Linked DNA regions of Homo sapiens: region 1 is linked to region 2. Evidence: fine-mapped expression QTL. A gene starts in region 2. The other region holds a variant in brackets. All regions are shown on one strand. Distances are from middle to middle.

Region 1 (16,538 bases), 26 kb before region 2:
TCTTGCCTTCTTCCTTTCAGTAACAGAATCCCTAAAGCTTTCCCTAAGTACATGGCTGCCAAGATAGAAACCACATCCTCATCCTCCTGCGAGCAGCCAGGCTATGGCCATACCGCTCACTTCTAAGCTATCTCCTTCGCACAAAGTCACTTGCCCTGAGCTCCCTCTCCCCTGCCTTCCTGTGAGTTGGAAGAGACATGGAGGTGACCGGGCTGCAACCAGGCAGAAGAGGACAACACCCCGAGGATGGCAGAGCTATAGTATGGAGGGAACTGGGTCCCTGCATGGCCTCATGGAACACAGCCAAAACCCCCTCTATCATCAGTCTGGGCCACCTCTCTCTGAACTTTATTATGAGAAAGAAATAAACTCTTTATTTAGCAGCTGTATTTTGGGGTCTCTAATACAACAGCTTAACTTGTATCTAACAAATATAATGGCATTTCTTTAAATGAAAATTTACATAAAAGCAGATGTAGTATGATCTGACTTTTGTAATGGAAATGATTATATTACAAAACTGTAAGATTATACCAAAATATTAATAGTGGCTATTGCTGGGTGCTAGACATACAAGTCATTTTTCTTTCACTCATGTATTTTCTAAAATTTCATAAAACATATTACATGTTTAACAAAAATTATACTGAATATCCTTTTTACAGTGTTCTTTAAAAGCCTACCAAAAGTATGTTTTTTCCTTTAAAGAAAAAAAAAAGAGCACATCGTAATCATCTAAGGCACTTAACTCAAACATAGATCCCAGGGTCACAGCCCTAGGAATTCAGAGTCTCCACAGGTCTCAGACAGGCCCAAGAACCAGTATTTTTAATAGCACCTTAGGTAGGTCAGAACAACACTGGAAAACTACACTGGGATGGCCTTCTTCAAACAGGTGAGAGTACCTGGGCTCTGGGCAGGGCCAGTGAGAAAGTGAGAAGTAATATCAAGTCTTGGCTCTGGGGAGCTCCGAAATTCATCAGGTTTATAAGGAGAATGGAAAGATGAGTATGCTATATTTAAAATCCCGCTAAAGAACAAGGTATGGAATTTATTAACAAGTTAATCCTAATTATTTAAACAAAAAGTAAACTTCTGAATGGACTGTAAACAAAATGGCCTTTAAGGTCAACCCCAAACTCATACCATAAGAGCCCTCTAATGCCACACCTGAATTCTAGCCCCAGCCTGCCCGGCATCCAGGCCTGCCCAGCTTCCACAGAAGCCTTTTCCTGCACTGCCTCTTGGAGCCTGCAGCCTGCACCAGTGGCAGCCCCTGGCCAACAGCCCAGAGGAGGGAAAGCCAAAGGGAAGATCCGATACAATGGCTGCACAAAGCAACCAACCATTTTACTGACAAAAGATGGTACAGCGGGTAGAAGAGCAAAGGCCCAGGCTGCCTTGTACAGCAAATCTGGGCTTTGCAAATATTCTGGAGGTATATTCCAGGGTAGTTAGAATCTAAAGTCACCAGGTCACAAATGGGGCACAGAGCAGTGCTCTGGCCCTCACCCTGCAGCCTTTGACCCTGGCAAGCTGCTGGATAAGAGGGCTGGAACAAGACCAGTAGCCTAGATGATAGCCGATCCAATGTCTCTACTGCAAACCCCATGCCCAGTGGAGGCCCAAGACACAGAAGGGTGAAGCAACACAGGTCTGTAATATAAAATAGAGTTGGCCTAGGACAGCCTTGGTTTCAACATTCCCAAGGGCCTCTGACATCCCAGGTCTGGTGGCCATTTGTACTTTGCTGAGGCCTGGCGTGTACTGTGTGTGGGCTGCTGGCAGTCACTAAGCTGGTGGGAAAGCTCAGGATCTGCCTCCAGCCAGCTCAGTCACCCTCCATCATCTCTGGGGGTGCAATAACTGATGAGGTGACAGACATTGGGCCTTTTAGGAAAATGTCCATTAGGTAAGAGGTCCTAGGCATCCTCAAAAATGTAGGGGAATTCTAGTGACAGGGTATATGAAGAAAACAAGTGACTATAAGCATAAATGTGACCAAGGAGAAAAGCAGAGACCTGAACCAAGAACGAAAATCCTCAATCTTTGTGAATTTGAGGATTTTTGAAGGTTTGGGGGCATTCCTTAAGTGGTAAGCATGTGCTGTTCAGCACGTCATGAACTATTTGCATTCCAGATGCCCCTCTTTTAGGCCACAACAAACTCTGCCCCTGAGGAACTGACATTTAACTCTCAGCCTTCTAGTTACTATAAAGGACCAGGAGCCTCAGGCCAGGCTCTTCCTAGTTCCTTAGAGACGAGCCCCAGGGAAAGGAGAACTATAGCACTGTTAGAGTTCCTGGGGCAACTGAAGAAGGAGATGAAAGTATCAGGATGTCCCGAACAGGTCTGCTCCCAAACCTGGTGGAGCAAAAGAATCTACCAGGCAGATTTTTTAAAAATGCAGATCCTCAGAAATAAAAAGGAATGAACTACTGACATACACAACATAGGAAAATTTCAAAACAAGTATTCTGAGTGGAAGAAGCCAGACAAAAACAAGTATAAACTGCATGACTGTTCTCATGCAAGCTCTAGAAAATGCAAACTAAGCTACAATGACAGGAAGCAGATCAGTGGGATTGAGGGGAGGGATGGGGGGAGGTATCACAAAGGGGCAGCAGGGACCTTTTAGGATGATGATATATTTGCTGTGTCGATTATGGTGATGGTTTCACAGGTGTATACAAACACTGAAATATATCAAATTGTATACTTTAAATATTCTATGTCACTTATACCTCAATAAAAAATTTTTTTTTAAAATAATAAAACGACTCGGGAGGCTGAGGCAGGAGAATCACATGAAGCTGGGAGGCGGAGGTTGCAGTGAGCCAAGATCGCACCACTACACTCCAGCCTGGCAACAGAGTGAGAGTCCATCTCAAAAAAATAAAATAAAACGAAAAAATAAAAGTACAGATTCTCTAGTCCAAATGATTGGGACACAGGAGTATTTGTTTTATAAGCCTGGATGGTAGCCAATCCAAGAATTCCACTATAATTCCAACTCTCATTACTTTTTTAATGCAATGATTTATTAAATAGTGTACTTTTTAAAGCAATTTGGTGATTCTGATGCAAGCAGTGACTGCCAGGTGTTTGGAAATTACTATTCAAGACACCTACAGTGTCTTGGTTTAGGGCTTAAATGGTGAGTTGTTTCATATTAAAAATGAAGTTAGCTGAAAAATAAATGGCACAAAATTATGTCCTGAGGTAGAAAGAAGTCCCTGACATATTGTCAGGTGAAAAAAGAAAAGCAAGCTGTAAAACAGTAAGCAGGAGAAAAATCAATCTATTTCTACATCTACTATTTCTATCCATGTCTTTAACAGCATCTTTTTGAAAAGAGGTATAGAATAGAATGCAGAGACATTCAATATCTATGGATATGCATTTCCTCTCTGTCTAGGGTTATAGAATGATTTTATTTTCATTTTAAGATAATTTTTTTCTAGATGTAGTTTCTAAATTTTCTAGAATGAACATGACTTATTTACATGATAAAATAATCAAAACTGTATTTCAAAAGTCAGGGGCCCCCATTCACATCTATCATTGGTTTAGCTCCAGTTTATTCACTGCTATTCCAAGCATATTGTGATCAGGGGTTAGTGTTGAAACAGCGGTTTCTATCTCCAAAACGGACTTAAAATCACTCTTTATGAAGCAACACAGAAATAAAAAAAATCTAGGACTCAATGAGAAGCAGATGGAGGGGAGGAAACAGGAGGAGGAAAAGAAAGCTGGGGGAGAAGGAAAGGGAGAGAATATATTAACCTGAGACTTGAGGAAGGGAGAGGAGGGAAAAGAAAAATGTCAACCCCAGTAGCTGTTTGTGAACCCACGTATAACACAGTGTGCCCCACCACAGGTATCAAAAGCAACACAAGCACGATGACAAAAACCCAGGACTCTGGGGAAGAAAACCAGATCAGATTTGTAAGCAGGTTGTCTTTCTATTTGGAAAGGGTTTGCATGCCCAGACCTTTCTGATGTTGATTTTACATGAACCCCAAATGCACTCCTGGAATGCCTACCTGGCTCCAGTGTAACATGTTTTGCACAGAAGTTCCAGCAGGAGAATGTGTTGTATATACATCCACTCTAGACTGCAAAATAAATACATTGAAATGAAGAATGAAAACAGCATTAAGGTGGCATTGATAATAAACATTGTATTTTGCCCTTCAAAGCACTAAAAACTAGAGCCATAATCTCAAGTATGTGAGATGAGAGGTAGAAAAAAATTATTTGACTAAAAATCTGCCCTATAAAAATACATACAACCACATACAAAGTCCATATGAAGGAGGTGCAACAACATGGTAAGCACGGGACTGTGTGGGTTTCGTTTACAGGGCATTTTCATTTTGTTCTTCATGCTTTCCTGAATTTCCCAAATTTCATATAACAATCACACCTTGCTTTAATTATCAGACAAAAGAAAAATGGCACTGAAATTCCTTAGGGCCTTTATTCCAGGATTTTAACCCTTTTTTTCAAAATGCCACATGACAAACTAACAAACATATTTAGAAACACGGGCATAGTATTGGCCAAGGGTTTATATTTTATAAAATAAAATGGGTTTACATTTTATAAAATGTACTTTTATAAATACACACACACTGCAAGCATACACTTATGTGTATGTAAATGGCCGTTCCAAATTTAAATACTTATAGTAATTTTTGAAAATTTGTGTATTTTAGATTCGGGGGGTCCATGTGCAGGTTTGTTACAAGGGTGGATTGCATGATGCTGAGATGCGGGCTTCTATTGATCCCATAACCACAGTACTCAATATTGGCTATAGTACTCAACAGGCTTCAGCCCTTGTCCCTCTCCCTCCTTCCTTTTGGAGTCCCCACTGTCTATTGTTCCCATCTTTATGTTTATACTTATAATGATTTCTAAAAGAAACAAATCACTAGAGTAATTATAAATATTACAGCTTAATTTGTGACAGATCTCCTCATTCAATAATCTCCATCTAGGTACAACATAAGAAGGTGACCACAGTCAGCCTGAGGATGGCAGCAGGTGGTACCGTATTCTAGGCATTGGCCAAAGTTCATGCTTGTGCCTCTCAAATGAAAGACTCTTTAGAGTTCTGATGAGGTCATTCCCACCTCTCCCATATCATTCAACACAAATAAGCACATTCACAGATAAAAAAAAAAATCAAATCTTACTATAAACATGCATACCATATTTAAATTTCTCTCATTAAATCCACACAGAAGAAAACAGAGATTTCCACAGAGCTCCTTCAGTATGACATGAGTGCAAACGTGGGTACCCAGCCACTTCAAAAACGCACTCTGGGGAAGAAATTCTTTGTCTCCAAATAAGTCCTACAAAATAAAAAGAAACCCAAGAACATCTCAGCATTTCACTCTGGTGCATAAGTCTCCGTGACTCACCTCAGAAGCAGAGACAAGTACCCAATGTCTCCACGAATGGCCTCAGGAGAGAATGGCAACCAGTGGACATCAAATCAGGATGCTTTTGCACAAGTTTACCAAAGCAAAAATCACACACTACAGAGGTGTATTTAAATTCTCCAAATGAAGAGAAGGAGGCAGAAAATCAAATAAGTTTTCAGCGGACTTCTACAGTGGGAAAGGGCCTTAATGATCACCCCTCCCAGGGCCATCCCCAAGTAATTTTCATCTGACTCTGATGGATCGGTGGTTACTTCTAAGAAACAGTCAAGGCTGTGATTGATCAGTAATGTCTGCCAGAGGTGTGCCCATCTAATTCAATGCTACTGGCCAGCAGGCCAAATCCAGCCCATCGCTTGCTTTTTTATTTTGTTTTTTAAAATTTTTTTTATTGGCCAGGCATGGTAGCTCATGCCTGTAATCCCAGCACTTTGAGAGGCCAAGGCAGAAGGACTGCCTAAGCCTAGGAGATTCCATCTTTCCTATTTAAGTCTTCTAAATGGCCCATGAGAGACGTTATACCTCATTTCATGTATATATTTCTATACAGGATTTCATATGTGTGTGTGTGAACATATATTTCATAAAAGACATATAATGCATGCATAATAGAACATCTGGTCTTACCTAGCTTAAAACTCTTTTTCATGAAATCTATTTCCTCCCTGAACAGAGGTTCGGGTGCCACAGCTTTAGGGCAGAGCCCTGATGAAGCTACTGGCTGTGTTTAGGAGCCATATTATAAAATACAATAATGATAGCGTTGTTAGGTCACCCTCAGTGTAGCTAGGGATGGGCTTTTGGGAACATTTCCTATCTCCCATCTCCTACATCCTCTGTGCACAGGCTCACCTCATGGGATAAAGGGCAACTCCACAAATGCTTAAATTATTTTCTCCCAGACTCTCCTTGCTCTCCCTGTGAGGTGGGCAGAGCTGTACTGACACATGCTAACCATGAGTACACGTGGCACCAGTGTGCAGGAAACGACAGGCGTCCCCGGCCACCCCTGGGTCTGGAAGGAGGGGTAAACGGAAAAAGAAAAGCCCACTGCTCCACTGATATCAAAACGCAGGGGAGGAAGGCACAGATTATCCCTCCCCTTGCCATTTCTTCAGATCTCAGGAGGAAATCTGCGGGGAGAGGAGAGGGATGGGAGGGGTCCAAGTACCTTAATGAGATGATCTGGTAATCGTCCTAATTTGGCCATAGGGCTAGTACAGAAGGCGACGGAAGCCACAGGACCCAGGGCAAAAAACATTTTAATCCTTTTAGCCAGCTCAGGGATCTGTGAAAATGCTATAAAACCTGTGAGAACAAAGGACAGAAAACAGGAATTCCATCATCTGGGATTTCCTTCTCAGAAAACACAAAGGCCGTCACTCGCGA[CGCCCTCTCGCGGA/C]GGCCTGAGACCCACGCAAACAATACCACCAGCAGGAGCCAAAACACTTGACATGGGGCACTCTGAACTTCCGTGTGCCCTAACACTGAATTTGGTTAAACTAGTAAATCAAGCATTTGTTAATGCTTGCTCCAAATCTCAACCTAGATAAGCACTGGAAGAAATCCAGTCTGGGAGAATCAGAAAATCTTCCCAGTTCCTTTTACAATGTAAATAACAGACTATTTCCAAGAGCCTCACCCCATCACCTTTATCTCCCCCATGCCCCTCCCCCAAAGAACAATTTACAGACACCACGTTGAAATAAACCACCAATGATTTCAAAGGAACTCACACATTTAGAATCCCCTAGCTTTAAAATATATTTTAACCCTTGATATGGTTTGGGTGTGTTCCCACCCAAATCTCATCTTTAATTGTAGTTCCCATAATTCCCATGTGTTGTGGGAGGGACCTGGTGGGAGATAATTGAATCACGGAGGCGGTTCCCCCCATACTGTTCTTGTGGTAGTGAGTAAGTCTCTTGAGATTTGATGGTTTTATAAGGGGAAACTCCCTCACTTGGCTCTCACTCTCTCTTGTCTGCCACCATGTAAGATGTTCCTTGCTCTTCCGTCATTATTGTAAGGCCTCCCTAGCTCACAATCCATTAAACTGTGAGTCCATTAAACCTCTTTTTCTTTATAAATTGCCCAGTCTCGGGTATGTCTTTAGTAGTGGCATGAAAACGAATTAATACAACCCTCTCTGACGTCTTGCCACCTGGCCCCAGAATGTCACTTTAGGAAGCAGTGGGGCAAAGGTCCCAAGCAGGCAAGTCATGAAAGAAGAAATATAAATAAAGAAAAATGCCTAACTCCATTTTTTTCCTGGCAATATAACCACATGTTTTGAGACCCTTCAAAACATTCATACCTTTCATATAGTAAGGCTCCTTCTAGGAATATATTGTAAGGAAAGCATGTGATGGGAACACTAAGGTGTTAGTCATAGTAAACATTAAAAGGGAGAATTAAATAAATTATAGGACAGGTTCCTAGTCCCTAATTACAAAAACTCTTGCTGACTAGAATTATGGGCAATTTTTATTTTCTTTAATTTTGCTAAATCTTCTGTTCTTCTGTTTTTCTACAGTGAACATGCATTACTTATATAATCAGCATAAATTAAAATGCATATAACTTTTCAAAATTTTTTGTAAACCAAATGTACCTGTAGTTAGTTATATTCCACTTAACTTCAGAAGGCAGTATATTTTCTTGTTTTCTTTATGTAAGTCTCTGAACTTAGAAACTACTTGTTTTCTACTCTCTCACATCCCTATCTTGCTTCATCTAGGAAAACATGTAATATATTGTGGCTTACATTAATTTCTTCAATTTCAACCATATACATGAATTTTCATAGAAGACTAAATGTTACCAACATTCCTTATCTTATTCATTATTTCTGTTTGGCATTTAAAAATAAATGGAATTTGAACTAACATCTTTTTATATTTCACTTTTAAGAAAAGTACAAACTCTGTAATGAAGAATTTATATCAACTTCTGATCTTATTTACATACATACCTATAGTGGTGCCTTGAGAATGACCCACATAATACACTTGTTCTTGGCCAGTTTTATTCAGAATGAAGTTAATGGAAGCTGGTAGGTCATATTTTGCCATCTCATCATAACTGTAATCCAAGAAAGGAACTCTTTCATTGAAATAGTACATAAAATAGAGCACACACATACTGAGTATGCAGTTTGATGAGTTATCACAAACTAAACACAGCTGGGAAAACCAGCAGTGAGTCCAGGAAACAACACCAGCAGGACTGCAGAAGCCCCCTTGGGCTCTCTTCCAGTTGTGTCTCCCAAAAGTAACTATTGTCCTCATTTTTCACACCAGAAATTAGTTTCGCCTGTTTTTAAATATTTCTGTAAGTAGAATTATACAATGTGTATTCTCCTGTATCTGGCTTAATCCATTTTTTGCTGCATATAATTGTAAGTTGTTCATTCTTATTCTACTATATAAATATACAACACTTTATCCATTCACTGCTGACATGCATTTGGGTAGTTTCCTGTTTTCCGTTGTTACAAATAGCGTGACAATAAACCAATTCTTGTATATGCCTTTTGTTAAAAGCTCTCATTCTTGTGTTTCATGTCCTTAGAGGTGCCTCTGGTTTTAAAAATGGGAAGCAAGCCCGGAGGCTGCTATAGTGCTGCTGACTTTCTCTAATACCTGGTACCAAAACATAGACCAAAACCCAAGTGTGCGTATGGGTATATGCATGCGCATGTTGCCACTGGCAGGAGAAGAGCCAACCCCTAGCCAGTTCATACAAGGTGCCAGGTTCTGTGGAGGTTCCTTCTCTGCACCCTCTCCTTTAAGCCCCCAGTGACCTTATGAGGTAGGTGTTTATTACGCTCCATTTTACAAATAAGGAAACCGAGACACAGGAGGCTTATGTAAGATGTCCAATGTCATACAGCAATTAACTGGTGGAGCCAGAAGGAAGAGGGAGGAAAGGATAATTTCTGGAAAGAAGAAAAGTGAACATCTGGATTACATATTTATGGAGAAAGGAGGAAAGTTATGGAATAACGTTTACCCAGCAGCACCCACACCACCAGAAATGCCGAAGTAACTTAAGAATTCCTAACTAAATGTAAATCTTAATGTAATCATTTACTTATAATTTACCTTACTGCTAGTCATTAAATTCCTAGCAACATTTAAAACCTTTCAAAAGACACTAACTTCCCCTCTCATACAACTTCAGAGTTACCACCTATCTACCTCTTCTGCTGGAAGCCTGTTGTCTGCTTTAAGAGTACTAAGGAAATACATCCATGCCATTATCAATTCATATATACCTGAAAGCCCAGAATTCATCCTGAGAAACTGAGAGTGTCTTATGTTTCCGAGACCAGGTATTTCCTCTGCTGTTGCCCATCCACACGTCAAAACCAGCATCAGCAAGAATGAAGCCCAGGCTGCTGTTGGCAAGGTTTGTGACCCAGTTACTAGAATCTGCCAGCAAGCCATGTTGCAGGAAGACAACTGGTTTGGGACCTGAAAAACATTCATTGTTTAGGAGGCAGTAGCACCAAGCTTCAAAACAAATATGATATCTTGCTAAATAGAACATTCGTAAAAGATCCATAAGCAAATAATGAACTAGAAATAAATTGAAAGATTGACATAGTGATGTACTCACATATAATGTTAGTAAAGAATTTTTTTAAAACAGCACTGGCAAGGTAGCAGTGAAACTGGACCATTTTTTGCATGTCCACTAACAAGACACACTTATGTAAGCAGCAAAAACAAAAATCAATATATTTTTAAGAAATTATAAAATGTTTTTACAATTTTTTTCTTATAAAATGTTTTTACAATTTGCTTTCGTAATTGCATTTCTCACAATAATTCCTAACAAAATAAACAAAAGGAAAGAAAAAGATCACACATAATGAGACATCACTATACACGTATCAGAATGAGCAACATCCAAAAACGCTGAAAACACCAACTGCTGAAGAGGATGTGGAGGAACAGGAACTCTCATTCATTGCTGGTGGAAATGCAAACTGGTAGCACCACACTGGAAAAGTTTGGCAGTTTCTTACAAAACTAAACATACTCTTACCATATAATCCAGCAATCACATTCCTTGGTATTTTACCCAAAGGAGTTGAAAACTTACATCTACACAAAAACCTGCATACAGATGTCTATAGTAGTTTTACTCATAATTGCCAAAATTTAGAAGCAACCAAGATGTGCTCCAGTAAATGAATGCATAACTAAACTGTGCTACATCCAGACAATGGAGTATTACTCAGCCCTAAAAGGAAATGAGCTATCAAGCCACAAAAAGATGTAGAGGAACCTTAAATACATATTACCAAGATCTGTAAAGGCTGCATTCTATATGACATGCTGGAAAAGACAAAACTATAGAGAGAGTAAAAAAGATCCTGGTTGCCAGGGGTTAGGAGGGAGGAAGGAATTCATAGACAGAGTAAAGAGGATTTTTCAGGGCAGTAAGACTACTCTGCATGATACTATAGAGGTAGACACATGCCATCATACATTTGTCCAAAACTATAGAATATACAACATCAAGAGTGAACTGTAGTGGCCGGGTGTGGTGGTTCATGCCTGCAATCCCAGCACTTTGGGAGGCTGAGGCGAGTGGATCACTTGAGGTCAGTAGTTCGAGACTAGCCTGGCCAACATGGCGAAACCCTGTCTCTACTAAAAATACAAAAAAGGTAGCTGGGTGTGGTGCCCCACACCTGTAATCCCAGCTATTCAGGAAGCTGAGGCAGGAGAATTGCTTGAACCCGGGAGGCAGAGGTTGCAGTGAGCCAAGATTGCACTGCTGCACTCCAGCCTAGGGGACAGAGGGAGACTCAGTCTCAAAAAAAAAAAAAAAAGGGAACCCTAATGTAAACTACGGACTTTGTGTGAATGTAGGTTCATCAGCTGTAACAATTACAATTCCACTCTGTGAGGGATGTTCATAACAGGGGAGTGTGGGGGCAGAGGGTGTATGGGAAATCTCTGTACCTTCCACTCAATTTTGCTATGAACTTAAAACTGCTTTAAAAAATAAAATTTAATAAAAATTTTTAAAGCTGAATAAAAGTTAAATAGATAAAAAGGCTCACACACACAAATTCATAAATATATGTGTCTGTGTCTGCCTGTGAGAATTTATTTTCTACTCACCTGTACCCGAGACAGTGATATAGCAGAAAAAACAAAGATGTGGGAGCCAAAGAAACCTGACCTCAAGCTGCTTACCTAACGCTGAGACCATTCAGTTATTCATGAAACAAGCCTTTATTGAGTACCAACTATGTGCCAGGCCTTCTTCTCAGCACTGAGAACACAGCAGAGAACAAAAACAAGAGGAAAAAAAGTACCTCCATGGAGCTGACATTATACTGACCATGAGTTTTATCCACTTATTTGATTGATTGATTGATTGAGATAGGATGTTGCTCTGTGACCCAGGATGGAGTGCAGTGGCGTGATCTCTGCTCACAGCAACCTCCACCTTCTGGGCTCAAGTGATCCTTCCATCTCAACCTCCTGAGTAGTTGGGATTTCAGGCGTGCACCAACACACCCAGCTAATTTTTGTGTTTTTTGTAGAGACAGTGTTTCACCATGTTCCCAGGCTGGTCTCAAACTCCTGGACTCAAGCGATCCACCCACCTCGGCTTCCCAAAGTGCGGGGTTTACAGGTGTGAGCCACCACGCCCAGCCCGATCATGAGTTTTAGACAGCTCAAACAAACCTAGGCTCAACTCTGTCCTCTCCAAGTTCTAACATGACACCTTGGGGAAACATCTCCTAAAATTAATATAATTCCCTGAAGAGTAGAAATGATAATACACATTTTATAGGACACAGTGAGATATGAGATATTATATGAAAAGTAGGTAGCAAAGAGTCTGACACACAGTAAGAGTTCACTATATATCAACTCATACTATTAAGTTGCTTAACCAGTCTGCGTCTCAGTTCCAAAAATAATTGTTAAGAGGAATAAGTGAGGTAAGTATCCAGTATAGTGACTGACACACGGGTCACAGTGAACAAATGAGAGCTTCCTTTGCCCTCTGCTCATTCTTTATAACAGTGAAAAACTGGAAATAAGCTAATTGTCAAGTGGTCAAATAATTCATTGAAATCCACTTGGTATAATAATTATCCATCAACCATGACAAGGACAGTGACAGCATAGAAAAGCTTATACCTTGCAAAGGAAAAAAAAGCAAAATACAAAATTATAGACTACTCTAAATTACAGCTGTGCAAAATTAATGTACACCAAAGAGGAGTGTAAAATACCAAGGAAAAATGAGAAGAATGATTTGTCCAGATGATAAGACTATAAGTGAATTGACAAATGTTCATTTCTGCTAATGTCCTAATATAGATTTGATAACTAGCAAATTGTTTTTAAATGACAGTTCTGCTGCAAGGTAGCTTCCGTAGACTACTCCGGAAGGCACTGCTCACATACATGAAAATATACATGGTACTCCCTGGAGTTGTACAACCTGGGGGTGCTATACCCTCGTGTTGTTAAAATAGCAGGACCCCAGGCCAAGAGTATAAAATGATTCCCATAACTTTTTTTTTTTTAAGAGAGAAAAGGTCTCATTCTATCACCTAGACTGGAGTGCAGTGGCATGACTGCTCACTGCAGCCTCAAACTCCTGGACTCAAGTGATCCTCCCACCTCAGGCCCCTGAAGAACTGGGATTACAGGTGTGTACCACAACATCCAGCCAATTTTTTAAAAAACTTTTCATAGAGATGAGGTCTTACTATGTTGCCCAGGCTGGTCTCAAACTCCTGGCCTCAAGTGATTCTCTCGCCTTGGCCTCTCAAAGTGCGGGGATTACAGAAGTGAAACATCATGTATGGCTGGTGTGATTTTCTAATCACAAAATAGAAATGCCAGGGCCATGCAGGTGAACTTCTACCCATGGGGAGAAAATAGAAAGCAAACTGGACAAGATTAGGGCTGCTTTATGTGCTCATCTTTGCCTTCAAAGGTTCATTTTAATGCAATATTAACAAGACTAAATTTACTACGAAAAATGTAAGTGGAAGGCATTGTGGTAGATACAGCGTCTTATGCACAGGCTTCTTGGCTTCAATGAAGAGGATGATAATCCAGCTGGGAAAATATGAAAATTGATCATTAAAAATCCAAAATTATAAACTGCAGTGTAAGTGACAATTATAATTACCAAAATTAATTTATCATTAAATTATAGTTGAAAAATGTGTAACTACAGGCACCATCATCATCTCATGGTAACTGTACGTGAGAATGGTGACCGGGCGCTGTACGATGCAGTGGCTCTGCTGTACTGATGGTGCCCAACACTTTCTAGAAAGAGGGGCTTTCCTGCTCATGTCACAGCTCTTTAGGTATGTTGAGGCACTTTTCACCCACCAGGAGTGATCAGGAGCTAGGCCATGAGTAAGGTGACTTGACTTTGAAAGGCCAGGAACGGGCTGCTCCCACAGGTCAGGTCATTTCCAACAAAAACGACTGCAATCGTCTTCCCTCAGGATGGAGAGTCAGAGAGAGGCAAGAGGAAGGCTCGGTAGGTGGCCTAATTCCTTGGCACTTGTTCCAATCTGTGCCTCTGTAGTTAACACGGAAAACATGGGACTGCCTAGTCTACTCCTCAGGGGAGAGTGTCCAGAGAAAGGCAGGAATGGTTTGAAACCAAAGAGGGCCCTGGGGCAAGGATAATTGAGAGAGGAGAAGGAGGGTGATATGTGGCAGCCAGGCCAGGACAGAGGCTGGAAGGGGAGATGTTGGCCAGCACATGGGACCAGGACTCAGCTCCCCACCTTCTCTCGATGGAGAATGTTTAAAATTTCCCTAAAGTCTCTGTACTTCCCTCTGTAACCTCTAGAGCTTTGAATGGGGAAATGTGGAAGCTGACAAGTTGAAGATACATCAGGAAAGTCTTTAAACATCCCCAATAAATAACTCCTGGATTCCCAAGGGCAATGAGGAGCTGCTGCAGTTTTCCTGGGAGGTGAGTGTGAAGAAAGGAATGGCCTGTGGACAGCTGGAGCATGTGCTACCCAGGAGACCACGCCTAAGGTGGCTGTGCAGCTTCTAAGAACATCGGTAAATACCCTTGTTCCACCCAGACCGAATTCACACCTGCACAACGCTTTTCTCAGGGAATTACTTTATCCTTTGAAGGAGGCTTCCAGAGAATAAGTCAAAGACACTATTTTTCTAATTGTCCTTTTTTGTTTGTTAGGGTTCTTCCATCCCCTACTTCAAGCTGAATACAAAAGCTCAATGAACAACAGGCACAAAAGATGCAGCAGATGGGAAGGAAACAGTGAATCTATTCTTTACAAGCTAAATGTTTTCAAATCTGGAGAATCTGGGCCAAGCACTGCAAAGGGTACTGCAGACCACACTGTTTTCTCATGGGAAATGCTGGCAGATGAGGAAAAGGGCTGATGAAGAAAGGTAAACGTCTGACAAATGGCATGGCTTTAGAGAATGGAGGCCACTCAGCTGTGTCCTCCACATTCAGGTGAAAAGTTTTTAATGGAAATCTGCTGTATCTTAAGCAGTGCACTAGAAGGTAAAATATCAAGAAGTGATTTGAAAACATACATTACGTTTCGTGCAAACCTTTAGTGGTGCCTACTGAGTACCAGCCACTGCTATTAGGTTGTTGCAAAAGTCATTGTGGTTTTTGCCCTTAAAAAGCAATGGCAGGCCGGGCACGGTGGCTCACGCCTGTAATCCCAGCATTTTGGGAGGCCGAGGCGGGTGGATCACCTGAGGTCAAGAGTTTGAGGCCAGCCTGGCCAGCATGGTGAAACCCTCGTGGTGGGTGCCTGTAATCCCAGTTACTCAGGAGGCTGAGGCAGGAGAATTGTTTGAACCCAAGAGGTAGAAGTTGTGGTCAGCCAAGATCGCACCACTGGACTCTAGCCTGGGTGACAGAGAGGGATTCCATTTACCCCCACCCCCCACAAAATAAAAAAGCAATGGCAAAAACCACAATTACTTTTGCCCCAAACTAATAGATGCTAGGAATGCAAAGATGGGTAACCCACACTCCCTCCCACAGGGAGCTCCATCCTCGAGGGAGTCAGACACACGATGACTGTCTAACCCAGCAAGAAGAAGGCTAGAACACCACTCAGGAAGTCCCAGAAGAAGGAGAAAGTTACTTGGCCAGTGGGACAAACATTTGACCTGGATTCTAAGTAAGAGACAGATGTTTCCACAAAGGGTTCTGGAGAAAACATAGGAGCCAGATGAATAAAGAGCTGACACTGCACCCAGGCCTTGGCCAGATGGGACCAGTGTGCACATGAAAGCCTCCCTGCCTGATTCTGACGCGCAGCCAGGCTGGGGAACCACTAGGAAAAGTCCAGTGCCTTGTCTGACCTGGGGACACAGGGAATAGGAAGGACTTCATGGGGTGCACATCTTTCCAGGCTGGGCCAGTTTCCTTTCATCCCAGAACAAAAAAGTCTCTTCTGAGGAGGGAGATGCAGAGGATATAACTTACTGAACTTCTAGAGATGGCAGTTCCATTAGGCATGACGGATCCTCAGCAAAGAAAATAGTATCGAATCCTCGGGTGAAAAACCTTTAAAAATGGCTTCCAAACCTCTTGCCCCTTCCCTCTGGCATTGGGTGAATACAAAAGGGAATGGAAAAGACTGGACGCTGGAAGCAGGCCCAGCCAACTGTTGCCAGCTTCTCTCACCTGCTCCCACCAGGGGGAAGAAAGGAAGGTACAATGTGGTTCTTTCCCATCCCACCACCAAAGAAGGATTTAAGGATTGACTGGCAAAGGATGTTTCTCTCTGGGAAGGTAAAACCTATTGCTGTTCACATCTTCCAGTGAACTATTTCAGATTTCACTTCACCTTGCTGAGAACAGCTGATTGAAATGATAGCTAGCGCCGATTGCACGCTTGTATGCTGTAGGTACTGTACTGAAAATCCTTTGAAGTTGGCACTACTGCCATTTAACAGAACAGGGAATTGTGGTAAAGAAGTCAAGTAACTTGCCCAAGGCTGAACGAGAGCTAGGAAGCGTGAGGGTTGGAGTCTAACCAGGTGTGTCTGACACCACAGGCCA
Region 2 (12,853 bases):
TAAGGAAGGATTCATGGGACAATTGTTAATCAGGAGCTCAGTGGGATATGGATAATTCAATTATCCAGGGGATTTAATGTAAATAAGTGCACATACCCTCTCTACCATAAGTACTTGAAAGAATTTAATTTTATCATTCTTATTTAAAAAATTATTTTAAAAGTTGGAAAAATTGGGAGGCAAAAGAAAAGCTTTGAGCTAAGAAGTAAAACTTAACTTTAAGACCCTGTTATCAGGTCATACTCTCCTGGCTCACTGTGAATTTCTCTGCGAGTCCCTAAGCTTGCCTGATTCTTCAGCTGGGTCACTGCAACATCTATTTTAAAGTTGCTGTTTTCTTTAATAATTTGTACTTTACTGATATTTTGTGCCTAAATGAGGTATTTCCAGATTTTATTGTTTACTTACGATTAATAACTTTCAGATGTTTTAATTAGTCGAGTGGTTATTTTTGCATATTTTTTCTAACAAAATTTAGCTCAGATACTTTGACTTCTGTATAGAAATATGTTCCCTGGACATTCTTAATCACAACCTTTGTTCAATGTATTCTAAAACCAGCTCTCAATAGCGGTAATGTTCTTGCAAAGTTTAAATACTTTTTTATAGTTTAAACAAACTTAGTGAGACTTAAAAATGAAATGAATTAATAAAAAATCATAATTTATCTTATTAAGAAGTATATATAACATTAAACTGAGGTTTGTTGGCTACATATTACCTGGTGAGAAAAGCCTAGCAAATTGAATCTAAGATTCAGAGAAATTGGGCTGGGCACGGTGGCTCACGCCTGTAATCCCAGGACTTTGGGAGGCTGAGGTGGACAGATCACCTGAGCTCAGGAGTTCAAGACCACCCTGGGCAACATGGTGAAACCCTGTATCTACTAAATACAAAAAAAATTAGCCAGGCATGGTGGTGCATGCCTGTAGTCCCAGCTACTTGGGAGGCTGAGGCTCGAGAATCACTTGAGCCCCTGAGGCGGAGGTCGCAATGAGCCGAGATCACACCACTGCACTCCAGCCTGGGCGGGCAGGTGACAGAGTAAGACTCTGCCTCAAAAAAAAAAAAAAAAAAAAAAAAAAAAAAAATTCAGAGAAATTGAAAAGCAAAGGAGTTATAAAGAGATGAATGTATGGGTATGGCTTCATGTAGCTCACATAACTGGATCGGGGAAATAGATGCATTTTAAAAGTACATAACTTTGAGAAACTTACCACATTCATGTTTGTTTCAGGATCCACAGCTGTCAGTTTCCCTCCAGACCCCTCAGAATGCAGGGTCCAGAGAACCAAACAGACCACCAACCCCAAGAACCGCATTTTCATTCTGTATAATAAAACAGTCTATTATTATTTGCTTGAATTTTACTACACAAAAATATTCTGGTAACTTAATGCTCCCACAAAAAGTTCTGAACCAGATTTAGGGCAAGTAAAAGGTGAAAGGAAAATATGAAACAAATGACTCCAGCCATATCTGAAAGGAGAATAAGGAATTTTTAAATTTTATTTATTTATTTTTATTTTATTTATTTATTTATTTATTTATTTATTTATTTATGTTGAGATGGAGTCTTGCTCTGTCACCCAGGCTGGAGTGCAGTGGTGCAATCTCAGCTCACTGCAACCTCTGCCTCCTGGTTCAAGCAATTCTTCTGCCTCAGCCTCCCAAGTAGCTGGGACAACAGGCACGCACCACCACGCCTGGCTAATTTTTGTATTTTTGTAGCGATGGGCTTTCACCATATTGGCTAGGCTGGTCTCGAACTCCTGGCTTCGTGATTCGCCCACCTCGGCCTCTCAAAGTGCTGGGATTACAGGCGTGAGCCACCGCGCCTGCCCAGGAATTTTTTTTTTTTTTCGGAGTCTCGCTCTGTTGCCCAGGCTGGAGTGCAGTGGCACAATCTCGGCTCACCACAACCTCCGCCTCCCAGGTTCAAGCGGTTCTCCTGCCTCAGCCTCCAGAGTAGCTGGGACTACAGGTGCAGGCCACCATGCCCGGCTAATTTTTGTATTTTTAGTAGAGACAGGGTTTCACTATATTGGCAAGGCTGGTCTCAGATGACTTCGTGACCTGCCCGCCTCCGCCTCCCAAAGGAATTATTATTATTATTATTTTATATTTATTTATTTATTTATTTATTTATTTATTTATTTATTTATTTATTTTGAGGCTGAGTCTCGCTCTGTCGCCCAGGCTGGAGTGCAGTGGCGCAATCTTGGCTCACTGCAAGCTCCGCCTCCCAGGTTCAGGCCATTCTCCTGCCTCAGACTCCCAGGTAGCTGGGACTACAGGCGCCCGCCACCACGCCCGGCAAATTTTTTTGTATTTTTTTTTTTTTAGTAGAGACGGGGTTTCACTGTGTTAGCCAGGATGGTCTCGATCTCCTAACCTCGTGATCACGCCTCGGCCTCCCAAAGTGCTGGGATGACAGGCGTGAGCCACCGCGCCCGGCCCAAAGGAATTACTTTTAACTAAGAAACCTCCCACCCACCACCTCCAGTTGATATATGACCTTTGGAGTCCAGCATACCCATTCACCTCCTAACCCCAAAGTTAAAAACAAATTGGTCATGGAGAAATAACAAAAGGCAAGACTTAGAAGAGGATAGTTTGAGAAAAAGAAAGAGACACAAAATTTCTGAGCTTGCTTATTTCCCACCTCTTGCCTTCCACCTATGATTTAGACATGTTTAAGTTCAGCCACTATTAGCTCTTCCTCCTACTTATCTAACCACTATTAGCTCTTCCTCCTACTTATCTAACCACTTCTGTTCTTGCCCCAAATTATACGTCAGCATTTAAATTTGTCATTCATGGGAAAAAAGTGAAATGAAAGAAAATAGAGCTTTCAAAAGAAACAGAAAGGAAAAATTTGACCCGTCTCTCTCCTTCTGAAATTCTCTAACCATCAAATCAACAAAGACCATCTTGGTTTCTGGCAGTGATGACTCAAAATCACAGCAAAGACCTTGAGGATGCTGAAGGCAAAGTTAAATGCCTCTCCTAAGATCACGCAAGTGGTCAGAGAAAAACCTAGGACTAGATCCCAGAACTTCTACATTTTTAAAAAATAAATAGAATCACTTAAAAAGATGCAGGCATGTATGCCCATACAAAGACTTGTACATAAATGTTTATAACAGCTTTGGGTGTAATAGACAAAAACTGGAAAAACCCAAATGCTTTAAATGGATGATTGGATAAATTATGGTATATACCTACTACTCAGCTATAAAAGGGAAGGAACACAAAAAAATATAGATTAATCTCAAAATAATTATGCCAAAAGAAGCCAGATCAAAATAAGGAAAAAAAAAAGTACTGTCTGATCCCATTCATATAAAACTCCACAAAATGCAGTCTAATCTATATTCACAGAAAGCAGATCAGTGGTTTCCTGGAGAGAAGGGGCAGTAAGAAAGGATCACAAAGGGGTATGCACAAATAATATTTTGGAGGTGATGTACAGGTTCATAATATTGAATGTACTGATGGTTTCACAGGTGTGTACACATGCAAAAACTTATACAATTGTACAATTGAAATATGCCATGCTATTGTATGTCAATAATACTCCAATACAGCTGTTTGTTTTTAGTTTTGTGTTTAAACTGAATATTCCACAAGTCTTAAGAAATTGATTCTCAGGAGATTGCAAAAGTGAACTGACTCCCTTCTGTTGATGGAATTCCTCCTGGGATTATTTTTTTCCAAGAAGTAGTGAACTCTGAAATTCTTTTCTTTTTTCTTTTTTCTTTTTCTTTTTCTTTTCTTTTCTTTCTTTTTTTTTTTTGAGACAGTCTTGCTCTGTCCCCCAGGCTGGAGTACAGTGGCGAGATCTTGGCTCACTGCAAGCTCCACCTCCTGGGTTCAGGCCATTCTCCCGCCTCAGCCTCCCAAGTAGCTGGGACTACAGGCGCCCACCACCACGCCTGGCTAATTTTGTTTTTGTATTTTTAGTAGAAACAGGGTTTCACCGTGTTAGCCAGGATGGTCTCGATCTCCTGACCTCGTGATCCGCCGGCCTCGGCCTCCAAAAGTGCTAGGATTACAGGCGTGAGCCACCGCGCCCGACCGTGAACTCTGAACAGGAGCAAACGTTATCCCCTTCAGTGTGCATTGGCAAAGCAAGGCCACTGCTTCTACTTACAACTTTGTACTTCTTCATGATAGGAAGGATTGTACAGCCCCAGGCTATTTTTTATCATAAATGCAACCTCCCAAAAGTCCATTATTACTAGAGAATAAGGAGTAAATTGAAAGGGAAAAAATTAAAGGAATTACCACAATTGAAAACAGAATAGCATCTGCAGGAGCTGCTTTCATTCAGCGGTTTTCCTACAGAACCTGTATCAACCGCCCAGAGGAAGGTCCATGAGAGTAACAGCTAAAGCTACTCAGCTGAAAATCTCACCCAGTTAAGTTTTCCTTCCAACACAACACTACATACTTAGTATGTTTTTCTCAACATACTAAGCCAAGCAATTCTTACTAAGAAGGAGATACTCTGAAAATCTCGAAGGAGGGGGGAAAAAAAACCTTCCAGGCTGAATTAAGTGTGCTTTTCTGGGCTGTATTAACACCTTTATCTCAGTTATTTAGACTTTGTAACAATCTGACTCAGCTTTGTACCCCCAGGACCAAGCAAAGTGCCACGTATATATTAGATGCATAGTACAGATTCTGAAAAAAGATAAGAGCAGTCCAACAGTTCAGTGGCAGAAGAAAAGGCCCCAACGCAGCATGCTATTTAACTTTCTAATAACAACAATTATTACGACTCCCATTTAAGCTCTTGCGAGGCGCCAGCCACCGCAGGCAGCGCTTCTGATCTACTGTCAATTACTCCTCCACCGACCCTATGGCAGTACCATTAATTCCATTTTTCAGGAATCTGAGGTTCACCCAGCTGAAGTACTGGAAGCAAAGTGTCAGCTGTTTAAAAAGCAGTATCGCTGGGACTTTAACCAGGATTGATGCCCAAGTCTGCTTTCGACCACGCCGTTGGCTAACAAGAGAGGTAGGATGGGATGCCTGGAGGAGCTAAGGGGAGAGCACGAGGATGCAGAGAGAGGAATCAGACATCCCTGCTGTCCTCGCGGTCCAGGAGCACTGGGCAGCTTCACTGACCGGAGACCGCGCCTGTCCAGGAAAGTGGACAGCGCCCAGGGAAGAGAGTGGGCTTCTCTCTGAAGTTGCTCTCTGAAGTTGCCCTGGTTGATTGGCAGATGCCTTGAGCCAACGCCCGCAGAAAAAGCACCCGCAGGCACCCCAGGCAAGACTCGCTGGGTCCAAACGCAGAGGGTCTTGCCGGCCGGCAGAGCCTCGGGGCGCGACCCTCCCCTTGCTGAAGGCACCAGCTTCCACGCCGCACCCGCACCTGGCAGCGCCGCGGCGCCGGCACTCTCACCTGGAGCTGTCCTGCCGGGCCGCTGTCTCGAGTCGCAGTGCCAGCTCTCAGGGGCCGGGGTGCGGATAGGGGACCTGCAGGGGGCCTGGTCTGCCTTGTCGGGAGGGCGGATGCCCACCACCCTCGGACTATTTGTTCAGCCAATCAGAGCAGCCAGCCACCGGGAAGTGCCTCGGAGACTCCGCCCCAGACCAGCGCTGCCGCTTGCCAGCCCCCCAGTTGACCCCATAGAGCATGCGCCGTAGGCGTTTCTAAGAGATGGAGCCCGTCCTCCGCCTCGCAGGCTGGCAGGTCCACAGCTCTACCAGCGCGTCGCCTACGCATGCTCTCTTAGCAAAGGCTGTTTTAGGCGGCCTTCTGCTCCGCCCCCGAAGCTCCTGCAGGGCTGGCACCTTCTGCGCCTGACAGAGAGCATGTGGGCTCTATAAATGAAAGTGAATCATGGGCTCCATTTAAAGCGCTTATCATTGTGCCTGATGCAAAGCAATCTTGCTGCTTTAAATTTTTTATTATTATTAAAGATTTGTTAAAAGAGGAAACAATATTCAATATGTACATATTATTTATTAATCATTTTCTAAAACAAAGATTTTATTGAGCACCTACTAAATGCCAGGCATTAGTAAGACAGTGGAGGTATAGAAACCAACCAAACAAGGTTCCTGTTCTCTTGTATATATTCTGATGGGAAGAGACACATCATGAATAACTATATAATACATGAGGTGGTGATAAGTGCTATAAATAACAACAAAAACAAACAAACAACAACAACAACAAACAACAAGGGGCTGGGCACAGTGGCTCACGCCTGTAATCCCAGCAGTTTGGGAAGCTGAGGAGGGCGGATCACCTGAGGACAGGAGTTCAGGACCAGCCTGGCCAACTTGGTGAAACCCCATCTCTACTAAAAATACAAAATTAGCGGGTGTGGTGGTGTGTGCCTCTAATCCCAGCTCCTTGGGAGGCTGAGGCAGGAAAATGGCTTGAACCAGGTAGGTGGAGGTTGCAGTGAGCGGAGATCATGCCACTGCACTCCAGCATGGACAACAGAGTGAGACTCCATCCCCCAAAAAAAAAAAAAAACAGGGATAAGGAGGATGATATGTATATGGTAATCAGGAAAGGACTCTTATGAAGTGACACCTGAGCACAGGCAAGGAGGTAGTTAACAGCCTTAGATACTGGAGAAAGCACATTCTGGGTGAAAATAGCAGGTACAAAGGCCCTGTGGTAGGAATATTCCTGGTGGGTCCTAGCCAGAGTGGTGAGGTCTTTGAGGCTAAAACAGAATGTACATAGTAGAAAGTAATAGAACATGAAGTCCTAGAAGTCTGGTGCCTTGGGAGCCACTTGTCAAGATCTTACCGTGTCTTCTGAGTAAGATGAGAAGCCAGTGTAATATTTTCAATAGAAGGGCAGCATAATCTAGTTTAGAAAGATCATTCTGAACTACAGAAGCAGGGAGACTAATTAGAAGGTGTATTAGTCTGTTCTCATGCTGCTAATAAAGACATACCCAAGACTGGGTAATTTATGAAGGAAAAAGGTTTAACTGACTCACAGTTTCACAGGACTGGGGAGGCCTCACAATCATGGCAGAAGGCAAAAGGCTTGTCTTACATGGCGGCACATGTGAGAGAAAGAACCAAGTAAAAGGATTTTCCTCTTATAAAACCATCAGACCTTGTGAGACTTATTTACCACCACAAGAACAGTATGGGCTAGACTGCCCCCATGATTCAGTTATCTCCCACCGGGTCCCTCCCACAACATGTGGGAATTACAGGAGCTATAATTCAAGATGAGATTTGGGTGGGGACACAGCCAAACCATATCATTCTGCCCTTGGCCACTCCCAAATCTCATGTCCTCACATTTCAAAACCAATCATGCCTTCCCAGTAGTCCCCCAAAGTCTTAACTCATTTCAGCATTAACTCAAAAGTCCATAGTCCAAAGTCTCACCTGAGACAAGGCAAGTCCCTTCCACCTATTAGCTGGTAAAATCAAAAGCAAGTTAGTTGCTTCTTAGATACAATGGGGGTACAGGCATTGGATAAATACACCTGTTTCAAATGGGAGAAACTGGCCAAAATGAAGGAGCTAAAAGCCGCATGCAAGTCCAGATCCATCAAGGCAGTCATTTCTTAAAGCTCCAAAATGATCTCCTTTGACTCCATGTCTCACATCCAGGTCACACTGATGCAGGAGGTGGGTTCCCATGGTCTTGGGCAGCTCTGCCCCTGTGGCTTTGCAGGGGGACCCTTCCTCCTGGCTCCTTTCACAGGCTGGTGTTGAGTGTCTGTAGCTTTCCCAGGTGCACAGTGCAAGCTATCGGTGGATCTACCATTCTGGGGTCTGGAGGACAGTGGCTCTCTTCTCACAGCTGCACTAGGCAGTGCCCCATTGGGGACTCTGTGTGAGGCCTCCAATCCCACATTTCCCTTCTGCACTGACCTAGCCCAGGCTCTCCTTGAGGGCCCCACCCCTGCAGCAAACTTCTGCCTGGACATTCAGGCTTTTCCACACATCCTCTGAAATACAGGTGGAGGTTCCCAAACCTCAATTCTTGACTTCTGTGCACCCACAGGCTCAACACCACATGGAAACTGCCAAGGCTTAGGGACTGTACCCTGTGAAGCCATGGCCTGAGCTGTACTTTAACCCCTTTTTGCCATGGCTAGAGTGACTGGGACACAGGCTGGGACACAAGTCCCTAGGCTGCACACAGCAGGGAGGACCTGAGCCAGCCCACAAAAGTATTTTTTCCTCCTAGGCCTCTGGGCCTGTGATGGGAGGGGCTGCCTCAAAGGTCTCTGACATGCCCTGTCAGACATTTTCCCCATTGTCTTGGTAATTAACATTTGGCTCCTCATTACTTATGCAAATTTCTGCAGCCAGCTTGAATTTCTGCTCAGAAAATGGGTTTTTCTTTTCTATCGTATTGTCAGACTGCAAATTTTCTGAACTTTTATGTTTTGTTTCCCTTTTAAAACTGAATTCTTTTAACAGCACCCAAGTCACCATTTCAATGTTTTACTGCTTAGAAATTTCTTCCCCCAGATACCCTAAAGCATCTCCCTCAAGTTCAAAGTTTCACAAATCTCTAGGGCAGGGACAAAATGCCCCCAGTATCTTTGCTAAAACATAGCAAGAGTCACCTTTACTACAGTTCACAACAAGTTTCTCATCTCCATCTGAGACCACCTCAGCCTGGATTTCATTGTCCATATCATTATCAGCATTTTGGTCAAAGCCATTCAACAGTTCTCTAAGAAGTTCCAAACTTTCCCACGTCTTCCTGACTTCTTCTGAGCCCTCCAAACTGTTCCAACCTCTGCCTGTTACCCAGTTCCAAAGCCACTTCCACATTTTTGGGTATCTTTACAATAGCACCCCATTCTACTGGTACCAATTTACTGTGTCAGTTCTTATGCTGCTAATAAAGACATACCCAAAACTAGGTAATTTGTAAAGGAAAGAGGTTTAATTGACTCACAGTTCCACGTGGCTAGGGAGGCCTCACAATCATGGCAGAAGGCAAAAGGCACGTCTTACATGGCAGCAGACATGAGAGGATATGAGAACCAAGTGAAAGGGGTTTCCCCTTATAAACCCATCAGATCTCATGAGACCTAGTCACTACCACAAGAAAGGTATGGGGAAAACTGCCCCCCATGATTTAATTATCTCCCACTGGGTCCCTCCCACAACATGTGGGCATTATGGGAACTACAATTCAAGATAATGATTTGGGTGGGGACACAGCCAAACCATATCAGAAGGCTACCACAATAGTCCAAGTGAGAGTTAATAATGACTTGGACCAGGATGGTGATAGCAGTGAAAGTGGAGAAAAATAGGCAGCTCTAGGTATGTTTATAAAGTTGAACCAATAGGACTTGCTGGTGGATTGAATACAGGTATGAGAGGGACAGTAGCATCAAGGATGGCACTAATGGAGTTGCCATGAATTTGAATGGACAAACTACCAGGAAGAACAACTTGAGAGGGAAATTAGGAGTTTGTTCTAGATGTGTTGGTTTTGAGATGCCTTTTAGAGACCTGTGTCAACTCAGGCCATGTCAGGAAATAGAAGCCACTCTAGGCATTGCAAACAGAGGACATGGTTACACAGGTAATGACATTGCTGAGAAGACAAACAGGGTTTGGGTGGCACCACAGAAATTATTAGCAACAGTGGAAAGAGCTGGGGCATTATTGGATGAAGGAAGTGTCATACCATAGACCAGAAGTTGAGCAACAGTCTCTGTCAGAGACACTACTCATGGCCAAGAAAGAGAGGAGCTAGAAATAGCTGGACCTCCCCTTCTTTCTTCCTTCTTCCTTCAGTCTTCCACAAGTCCCTTCTGAGGATCCTAGGCAGGCTAAAGGTGGCTGACACAAGAGCCTGCAGAGGTCAGACCACTCCACCCTCCACAAGACAGAGCAGAGCAGAGGTAGGACAGGGAAAGGATTTGGAACAAAAAGGAGAAGATTGGAAAAACATCCACATGGAGATGTTGAGTAGGGACTAGGATATATAGATGTATTCAAGCTCCAGGCTAGAGATATGATTTGTGACTAATCAGATTAGAAACAGTATTTAAAGACATGAGGCTGGAGGAGATCCCCTATAAAGTAAGCATAAGTAGCAAAGAACACACGTAGAGATTCAGAAGATATAAAAGCTGAGAAGACAATGAGGTTGGAGGAGAAATGAGTGTGTTGTACTTGACATGAACTGAAGAAAGAAATTTCATGAAAGAGGAAATGATCAGCCCAGGCAAGTGCCAATGACAGCTTAAGTGAAGTGAGTACTGAGAAACGAGCAACAGATTGAGCAGCATTTCTGTGTGTCAGACATTGGGCAATATAGTTACCCTTTCTAAGCCTCAGCGTCTTCACTTGTAAAATGGGTGTATGAAGGTAGTCTTGAGGATTAAGTGAGACACTGTATGTAGAGGGCTTAGCACAATTTCACAAAAGTAAAAAGTGATGTAGCCCAAAATGCAACCCAGGCAAACTAAATCCAGGTTGTCATCCGTGAGTGAATGAATGAAAATATAACCACGAGGTTCCTTCACTCAGGTAGGGGAAGATTTCTCCTACTTCCTGCTTTGGGCCATTGTGAGCCACAGTGACTGGTGGATGACCTATACCTTTTCCAAGTTAAACTTAATAAAGAGAGAAAAGGAGACTCTACATAAGAAAATGATATTTATTCAGGTTTGCAATGTGAATAAGTGTGCCATATTATACTATGTGCATATTTAAAGAAGTTAAGACAAGGGGAAGTTTTTAAAGGCAAAATGAGAAAGAATAAATAAGTTGTTTTGAATCAATTGTCCTTGGCTACGAGGATCAATAACAAGGGTGGCATTGGTCCAAGGACTGACAGTTGCTGAATAGACATCCTTGCAGAAGTATTTTCTGTGCAAGACTGCATTTTTGGCAGTCTTTTGTGATAGTTCTGAATTTCAGGCATATGTGTGAGAATACTCCCTTTATGGCCTTCCATGGGTCCATTTGCCAGGACTTTAATATAAAGGACTTCATTTTGATTTTGACAACTTTCACAACTATAAAAAGAAAGTTTTATAGAAAACAGGAGGTAGTAGTGGTGTGTGTGTGTGTGTGCATATATGAACATGTGTGTTTGGGATGGTCACTTTATATCATAAGCCAGACTGGTGAAATAAAGACAGAAACAATACTAATAGCAGTTCTGCTTCCAGCAAAGATAGAGTAACAATGACCTGGTTTACTCTCCTACTTTAAACAGCTAAGTTGGAAAAAGTATGAAACGATAATTTCAGACATTGGACAACAAATAGTGCAAAAGAAAGAGCAATCCTTGAGAAAAGAAAAACAAATGAAATGATCCCTGCAATGCCTCAGATAATTGCCTGGACAGATTTTCCAGGCTGTAGTTTAGGGAGGCCAAATCCAAGCAAAATCCAGCAGTTTATCTAAATAGAGGAGAAAAATGAGAATTAAAAAAGCATTCTCATCTGGCAGTAGGAATTCTCTTAAGGCAGCAGAGTTGCAGGGCAGAATGCTGGAGCAGAGAGAGCTGAAGAGAGAGAGAGGCTGTGGCGAGCTGCAGATGGGTTCCTTCAAGTCTTTAACTAACAGTTTGCATGTGAAGAAACTATGCTAGACCATAGTTTAGTGGAAAGAACCACCTGCAAACGGTAAGATCCCCAAGGCTCACACAAAACTTGGAATGGTTTAAGTTACAACCAGCCAGAGTGGGAAAACATTGTAACACAGAAGGCACTCAATAAAAGATTCATAAGACTATTGTCTCAGTATTGGAGCAAGATCAGCCCTAAGTTAAGGCTGCCTTTTAAAAATAAGAATACTGAATAAGAATAAGAATACTGAATACTGGGAAGTAGACCCCCAATTGATTTTTACCAAGGTTCCATGACAATTCAATGGGGAAAGAATAATCTTTTTAACAATGGTGCTAGAACACTTGAATAGCTATATGCAAAACAATGAACCTAGACCCTTAAGTCATAGAAAAATTAACTCAAAATGGACCATACACATACATTTGAAAGTTAAAAATATAGGAGTTCCTGGAAAAAAATTGGAGAAAATCTTAAGAAATTTGAGTTTTGTCAAAGATTGTTTAAATACAACACAAAAAGCACAACCTATAAAAGAAAAAATATCAACAAATTGGACCCCTTCAAAGTAAAATAACTTTTTTTTCTAAAAAAAAGACGTTTTATAACCATGATGAGATACCACTTCATACCCACTAGGATAGCTATAATAAAAAATACAGGTAATAACAAGTGTTGATGAGGATGTGGAGAAATGTGAACCCTTGCACACTGCTGCTGGAAATGTGAAATGGTGTGGCCACTTTGGAAAACAGTCTGTCTGGAAGTTCCTCAAAAAGGTAAACATAGAGTTATCATATGACCCATCAACTGCACTTTCAAGTATATACCCAGTAGAAATAAGAACTGATGTTTACATAAAAACTTGTACATGAATGTTCATAAGAGCATCACTCAATATAGCCAAAAAGTGGAAACAACCATATGTTCATCAACTGATGAAGACATGAATAAATAAAATTTGATATGTTCATACAATGGAATATTCTTCTATAATTTAAAAATGAAGCACTGATACTAACTACAACATGGATGAATCTTGAAAACATTATGCCAAATTTAAAAAGCCACTCAAAAAAGACCCTTCCACTTGCATGAAATGTCCAGAATAGGCAAATCTCTGCAGACAGCAAGTAGATTAGTAGTTGCCTAGGGATGATGGTGGGTTGATGGCTAAAGGATGGGGAAGAAGAGGAAGTTAGGATGATGAAAATGTTCTAAAATTAATTGCAATGATAGTTGCACAGCTCTGCAAATATACTGAATGCCATTGTTCCCTTTAAATGGTGAATTGA

What was found.
Region 1: its variant is fine-mapped to the expression of LIPA in skeletal muscle (GTEx, PIP 0.91).

What each region holds. Positions count from the first base shown.
Region 1 is chr10:89,218,465-89,235,002 of GRCh38, forward strand. LIPA (lipase A, lysosomal acid type) reads right to left here. Exons shown (of 10, transcript NM_000235.4): 4 at 9,736-9,934; 5 at 8,431-8,540; 6 at 6,628-6,764; 7 at 5,220-5,366; 8 at 4,047-4,118. Among named protein-coding and RNA genes, the nearest start is that of CH25H, 19 kb to the left of the region's middle. RefSeq lists an enhancer at 16,448-16,538. The variant CGCCCTCTCGCGGA/C (reference allele first, on the strand shown) is at 6,846.
Region 2 is chr10:89,246,321-89,259,173 of GRCh38, forward strand. It overlaps LIPA (lipase A, lysosomal acid type), which reads right to left and starts at 5,455. Exons shown (of 10, transcript NM_000235.4): 1 at 5,417-5,455; 2 at 1,218-1,329. The coding sequence starts at 1,328. RefSeq lists enhancers at 2,724-2,813, 5,482-5,541.